Homo sapiens: one gene and its partner. The protein of the gene in region 2 interacts with the protein of the main gene of each other region in a biochemical or structural test. Each region holds a gene or a part of one and is shown on either strand. Other genes may lie near its edges.

The links.
Region 1: the proteins of NOTCH1 (region 2) and DTX1 form a complex in vitro, tested with the Homo sapiens proteins (one study listed by BioGRID).

What each region holds. Positions count from the first base shown.
Region 1 is NC_000012.12:113,073,730-113,077,229, forward strand, and holds part of DTX1 (E3 ubiquitin-protein ligase DTX1), read left to right. Parts: intron 1-3,500. UniProt on the Homo sapiens protein: Functions as a ubiquitin ligase protein in vivo, mediating ubiquitination and promoting degradation of MEKK1, suggesting that it may regulate the Notch pathway via some ubiquitin ligase activity.
Region 2 is NC_000009.12:136,504,549-136,508,048, reverse strand, and holds part of NOTCH1 (neurogenic locus notch homolog protein 1 preproprotein), read left to right. Parts: coding exon 1-94; intron 95-611; coding exon 612-744; intron 745-1,075; coding exon 1,076-1,333; intron 1,334-1,409; coding exon 1,410-1,522; intron 1,523-2,167; coding exon 2,168-2,739; intron 2,740-2,944; coding exon 2,945-3,376; intron 3,377-3,500. UniProt on the Homo sapiens protein: Functions as a receptor for membrane-bound ligands Jagged-1 (JAG1), Jagged-2 (JAG2) and Delta-1 (DLL1) to regulate cell-fate determination.

The DNA.
Region 1 (3,500 bases), on a different chromosome or scaffold from region 2:
TATCTGGTTGCAGATCCCTGGGCCAGGCACCCGAGGAAGATGCCAATTAACAATGGAAATGCCTTCCAGGTTTTGAGGTCCTACTGTGTGCAGGTACTGTGCCAGGTGCTGGGAGTACAGCAGTGAGCAAAGCAGACAAGATCCCTGACTTTGCAGCTGACAGCCTAGAGTGAGGATACGCAGCATAAAGAATGCATGCAGATTAATACATCATGTCACAGCCTGGCGCAGTGGCTCACACCTGTAATCCCAGCACTTTGGGAGGCTGAGGCAGGTGGATCACCTGAGGTCAGGAGTTCGAGACCAGCCTGGCCAACATGGTGAAATCCCGTCTCTACGAAAAATACAAAAAAAATCAGCTGGGTGACACATACCTGTAATGCCAGCTACTTGGGAGTCTGAGGCAGGAGAATCGTTTGAACCTGGGAGGCAGAGGTTGCAGTGAGCCGAGATCACGCCACTGCACTCCAGGCTGGGTGACAGAGAAAGACTCTCTCTCATATATATATATAGTCAGTCAGGTAATGCCAAGTGCCAGGGAGGAAAATAAAGCAAGCTCAGAGGACAGCAATAGGAGGGCTGCACTTTTAGATGTTTGAACACACACCTGTAAGAAAGAAGGGAGGAAATGATGAGAACATCTGGGAATGGTGAGGTCATATTCCAGGCAGAGGGAACAGCCAGTGAGAAGGCCCTGAGGCTGGACAGTGCCTGGTGTATTTGAGGAACAGCAAGGAGGCCAGGGTGGCTGGAATGGAGTGAGTGATAAGGGGGAGGTAGACAATGCCAGAGGAGGACAGGGCCCCACAATGTGTGATTTCGTTGTAGGTCATGGCAAGGACTTTGGCTTTTACTCCAAGTGAGCGGAAGCCAGGAAGGATTTTGAGCAGAGGAAAGATGTGATCTGACTTGCATTGAGCAGGATCCCTCTGGCTGCGGTATGGGAAATGGATTACAGAGGCCAGTCATGAGTCTACTGCAATGGTCCAGGCAGGAGAGATAACATGGCGGGGACTGGGTGGTGTGAGTGCAGTGGGGAGCAGTGGTCAGATGTGGATGTGTTTGAAGGTGGAGATGACTGGATTTACTGACAGATTGGAGGTGGGATATGAGGTAGAAGTCAAGGATGAGACCAAGATTTGGGGGTCCAAGGAAGAGCATCCGGAAGCGCAGGAGCTGCCAGGAATTGCTATGTGAAGACTTCAGGAGGAGCAGGTTTGGGGCAGGGGAGAGCAGAGCTGAGTTCAAGGTGCCTGTTAAACCTCTCCAGGGAAGGGTCATGAACCTGGCTCCCAGGGGAGAAGACGGGGCCAAAGATGGCAGATTTTGGAATCATCAGAGTAGACACGGTATTTATCTCAATTGATCCTCTCAGCAACCCCACAAGCAACTGTTGCTACAGCTGGCAAACGCAGCAGTCTTCTATTGCATGTCTGCTTATGCCCATTTTCAACATGAGAAAACTGGGGCCCAGAGATGCTGAGTTGCCTACGCACAGTCACAGAGCTGGAAAGTCAGAAAGTCAGGACTTGAAGTGAGGGCTGTCTGCCTCCCAGCCCTGGGGTCCCACCCAGACCCTCTGCAGCTGTTCTCACTCACTCCTCCCCCAAATACTGTGTGAGAGGGAAGGGCTGGGTCATGGATGATCACCCCTCTTTTTGAGATGGGGCCACTAAGGCCTGAGGAGGCTTAAGGGACTTTCCCGCAGTTGAGGGGAAGTCAAGTGTGCAGCCTTTCTGCAGGTGTGCCAAATGAACCCAGCAAAAGACTCACTTCATCAGCCCCAAGACACAGAGCAGGCTAAAGGCTCTGAGAAGTCCTGCGGCCTGGACCTTGGGTTATCTCTGGTTAGCCCAGAGTTTCCCGTGGAGCCTTGCTGTCAGGGGAGCACGCAGAGCTTTGGCAAACATGAAGCTGTGGTTTGGAGTAAAGCCTCAGTGCCCTCCTTTATGAAAGGGGGCCCACCTGGCAGTCAGCAGTTGTTTGTTGAAGGAAGTAACAAATGAAACAAACAGATGAATGAAAGTAACAAATAAGCAAATGAAGGAATGGACGAATGCAGGGATGAGCACAAAGTGTGAATGAATTAAAAAAAAAAGAATCCATTTGTGACCTAATGAATTTATTCATTCATTCAACAAATATCGCTCGAGCACCTGCTGTGTGCAGGTGCTGGGGATATAGCAGTAAATAAAACAAAATCCCTGACCTTGTGGCTATTACATTCTAGCGAGGGGGGGACAGACAGAAACCAAGATAAATGGGTAGAATGTGAAGTATATCTGAGGGAGAAAATGGAGCGGGGAAGGAGAGAGGGGAAAGTACGTGGGGGGTGCACATTTTTAAATAGGATGATGGTAAATGAAGGAATGTCTGAATGCCTGAATACGGGAGTGGGCTGAAGATGGAGAATACATAAAGGTATCAATTTAAAAAAAGCATAAGGGGCCCAGGGGCGGTGGCTCACACCTGTAATCCCAGCACTTTGGGAGGCTGAGGTGGGTGGATCACCTGAGGTCAGGAGTTCGAGACCAGCCTGGCCAACATGGCAAAACCCCATCTCTACTAAAAATACAAAAATTAGCCCAGCAAGGTGGTGCATGCCTGTAGTCCCAGCTACTCAGGAGGCTGAGGCAGGAGAATCGCTTGAACCTGGAGGCGGAGATTGCATTGAGCCTAGATTGTGCCACTGTATTCCAGCCTGGGCGACAGAGCAATACTCTGCCTGGAAAAAAAAAAAAAAAAAAAGTGGGGCCGGTCATGGTGGCTCACACCTGTCATCTCAGCACTTTGGGAGGCCAAGGCGGTTGGATTGCTTGAGCCGAAGAGTTTGAGACTTAGCCTGGGCAACATAGGGAGACCCCTGTCTCTAAATAAATAAATAAAATAAAATAACATAATGGATGACTGCAGGCACGAATGAATGACCTAAGGAAAGAATCAATGAATGAATGAATCATTGAATGAAGGAATATATGAATATGTGAACTAGGGCATGGATAAGTGAATGAACTAATGCAAGAATTGTTGAATGACTAAATGAAATAGTGCTTAAATTAATGAACTAAGGCATGAACAGATTGATGAATGAATCATTGAATGAGTGAGCAAACTATAATGAAGAAGAGGACTGCATGGGGCCTATGTGCATGGCCTTGGTCTCTGTCTATGCCTGCCCCACTTTATCTGACTCTGGTCTGAAGAACCCCCAGGCCCCCTTTGCCCTCCCCCGCACCATCCAGGGCCTGTGATAACCCCCACTTCAGTGTCTGTCTTGGCCCTGGAGAGGTGGAGGGTGGGGGAGCCCTCCACACCTTGCTGGTTTCCTACCCCAGGCTATCTTGGCACCCCCACCCTGTTTGGTGGCTCTCCCGCCCCTACGCCCAATCTACTGACCACGCGCCCCTGCCCACCTCTCGCCCCAGTGCTATGCGCTGAACCTTTAGCCCCGGCCCCCCTCACCCTGGCTGCCGCCTGTCCTGACCCTCCAGCCTGTGCTG
Region 2 (3,500 bases):
CAGCTACTGTGAGGACCTGGTGGACGAGTGCTCACCCAGCCCCTGCCAGAACGGGGCCACCTGCACGGACTACCTGGGCGGCTACTCCTGCAAGGTGGGGGTCCCTCCTAGGGTAAGGGTTGTGGCCGGCACGAGTGTTGCCACACACCAGGCCCTGGCTGGGAGCTGGCCCAGTGGAGAAAACTGAACCTGATAGGCCCATGCACTGTTCAGTCTCATTAGGGGAGGGCTGGGGTAATCAGGGTAGACTGCCTGGAAGAGGTGGCCTGTGGAAAGCCTGAAGGAGGGTACCTATACTGAGAAGTGGGATGGGGTTTTCCCTTCCCCTAGATTGTGTCTGGGCTTGGCCAACACCTACCCTGAGGCCCTCACCTCTATCCTATGGGACGGGGTCCACCCACCCCCAACAGGCAGTGACTCCGGTCACCGAGGCCCCGCCAGGGTCTGTTGGGCTGGGTCTCTCTCCAGGTCTGACAGGAGCGAGGGGCCCGTGGCTTCGCTGGACCTGAGGGCAGCTCATGTGGCCCTGTCAGCCCTCACAGTGGGGTGTGGGAGCACTGCATCCTGGCGCCGGCTGAGCCGAAGGGCCCCTCGTTCTGTCGCCTGCACAGTGCGTGGCCGGCTACCACGGGGTGAACTGCTCTGAGGAGATCGACGAGTGCCTCTCCCACCCCTGCCAGAACGGGGGCACCTGCCTCGACCTCCCCAACACCTACAAGTGCTCCTGCCCACGGGGCACTCAGGGTAAGGGCCGCTGCACGGAGGGCTGGTGTTGGCCATCCATGGCCAGGGCAGGGGCAGGGCAGGCACCCCGGGACCGGCCAGAGGCATCCAGGAACCAGCCAGAAACTCCCATTTTCCTGTGTGAGGCCAAGGCCGACTCACAGCTGCCCAGGGAAAGGGCCCAGAGCGGGGGTCCCAGTGGGAAGGGCGTCTCCACGGCACCCTTGACACCTGCCTCTCCCGAGTGTCCGTGCAGCCCCAGACCTGAGCGCTCGTCTTCCGGGACGGACACGCGGCACGGCAGGGCCGGGGTGTGGCGGGCTTGGGCCACTGACGAAACCTGGCCCCGCAGGTGTGCACTGTGAGATCAACGTGGACGACTGCAATCCCCCCGTTGACCCCGTGTCCCGGAGCCCCAAGTGCTTTAACAACGGCACCTGCGTGGACCAGGTGGGCGGCTACAGCTGCACCTGCCCGCCGGGCTTCGTGGGTGAGCGCTGTGAGGGGGATGTCAACGAGTGCCTGTCCAATCCCTGCGACGCCCGTGGCACCCAGAACTGCGTGCAGCGCGTCAATGACTTCCACTGCGAGTGCCGTGCTGGTCACACCGGTGGGTGCCGCGCCCAGGCGGGTGGGGCGTGTGGGGCAGCAGGGTGAGCCTCTCACTGCCCTGCTCTTACCCCTAGGGCGCCGCTGCGAGTCCGTCATCAATGGCTGCAAAGGCAAGCCCTGCAAGAATGGGGGCACCTGCGCCGTGGCCTCCAACACCGCCCGCGGGTTCATCTGCAAGTGCCCTGCGGTAGGTGCAGGGGTGCAGGGAGGCAGGGGCCCGCCAGGGGAGACACCTGGAGAGGTCCACGTGGGGGCCTCGGGGCGCAGACCGGGCAGTGATCCTCCCGGCCTTCATCCTCCTCCTCACCCTGATGTCTTTTTTTTTTTTTTAGTTTCAATAAATGATTTTAGAGACATTTTAGATTTATAGAAAAATGGAGCAGGAAGTAGACTCCCTGGGGTGGCTGTCCCCTGCACGCAGTTCCCCTGGTTAGCAGCTTGCATCAATTTCACTCTGGATTTCAGTGATACATTGTTACCAACAGCAGCCCTTCCTGTACCTGGGGCTTGCCCTTGGCTTTGTGGTTGTGGGTTTGGGCTGAGGTATGACATGCCTGCCCACCCTCGCAGGATCACGGCAGAGAGTCCCTGCCCTAAAGTCCTCAGCACTCCACCAGTTTACCCCTTCCTCCATCTCCCGACCCCCTGGCACCCCCGATCTTTCTCTGTTGGTAGAATGTGTGTAAAGGGTTTTGCTGCTGGGGGCAAGGTTGCAGGCCGCCTCCCAGGTTAGAGGAGAGCGGTGGCACTGCTGGCCGAGGGCTGGGTGTGAGGTGGCGGGGGGGCGGGGGGTGGCCCACCCCGACACCGTCCTGTCTTCCCTCTCGGGCAGGGCTTCGAGGGCGCCACGTGTGAGAATGACGCTCGTACCTGCGGCAGCCTGCGCTGCCTCAACGGCGGCACATGCATCTCCGGCCCGCGCAGCCCCACCTGCCTGTGCCTGGGCCCCTTCACGGGCCCCGAATGCCAGTTCCCGGCCAGCAGCCCCTGCCTGGGCGGCAACCCCTGCTACAACCAGGGGACCTGTGAGCCCACATCCGAGAGCCCCTTCTACCGTTGCCTGTGCCCCGCCAAATTCAACGGGCTCTTGTGCCACATCCTGGACTACAGCTTCGGGGGTGGGGCCGGGCGCGACATCCCCCCGCCGCTGATCGAGGAGGCGTGCGAGCTGCCCGAGTGCCAGGAGGACGCGGGCAACAAGGTCTGCAGCCTGCAGTGCAACAACCACGCGTGCGGCTGGGACGGCGGTGACTGCTCCCTCAACTTCAATGACCCCTGGAAGAACTGCACGCAGTCTCTGCAGTGCTGGAAGTACTTCAGTGACGGCCACTGTGACAGCCAGTGCAACTCAGCCGGCTGCCTCTTCGACGGCTTTGACTGCCAGCGTGCGGAAGGCCAGTGCAAGTAAGGCTGCGGGGCTCATGGGGCTGAGGGAGGACCTGAACTTGGATGTGGCCTGGCTTGGGCCCGGAGGCCAGCATGCAGTTCTAAGGCTCTGCTCAGGGGGTGCAGGGACGTCCCCCGCGGCTGGCCAGTGGGCTGGAGGCACCGGACGGCGGGTGCGAGGCCCCCCGAGGAAGGCGGCCTGAGCGTGTCCCGCCCCCCACAGCCCCCTGTACGACCAGTACTGCAAGGACCACTTCAGCGACGGGCACTGCGACCAGGGCTGCAACAGCGCGGAGTGCGAGTGGGACGGGCTGGACTGTGCGGAGCATGTACCCGAGAGGCTGGCGGCCGGCACGCTGGTGGTGGTGGTGCTGATGCCGCCGGAGCAGCTGCGCAACAGCTCCTTCCACTTCCTGCGGGAGCTCAGCCGCGTGCTGCACACCAACGTGGTCTTCAAGCGTGACGCACACGGCCAGCAGATGATCTTCCCCTACTACGGCCGCGAGGAGGAGCTGCGCAAGCACCCCATCAAGCGTGCCGCCGAGGGCTGGGCCGCACCTGACGCCCTGCTGGGCCAGGTGAAGGCCTCGCTGCTCCCTGGTGGCAGCGAGGGTGGGCGGCGGCGGAGGGAGCTGGACCCCATGGACGTCCGCGGGTGAGTGAGACCCGGCGCCCACGGTCAATCCCCGCAACTCTCCTGGGCCCTCCCCGACGGCCTCCCTGCCCCTCACGGCCGGCGCCATGGCAAGCAGTACTCTCCCCACTTTATGGTAAAAGAG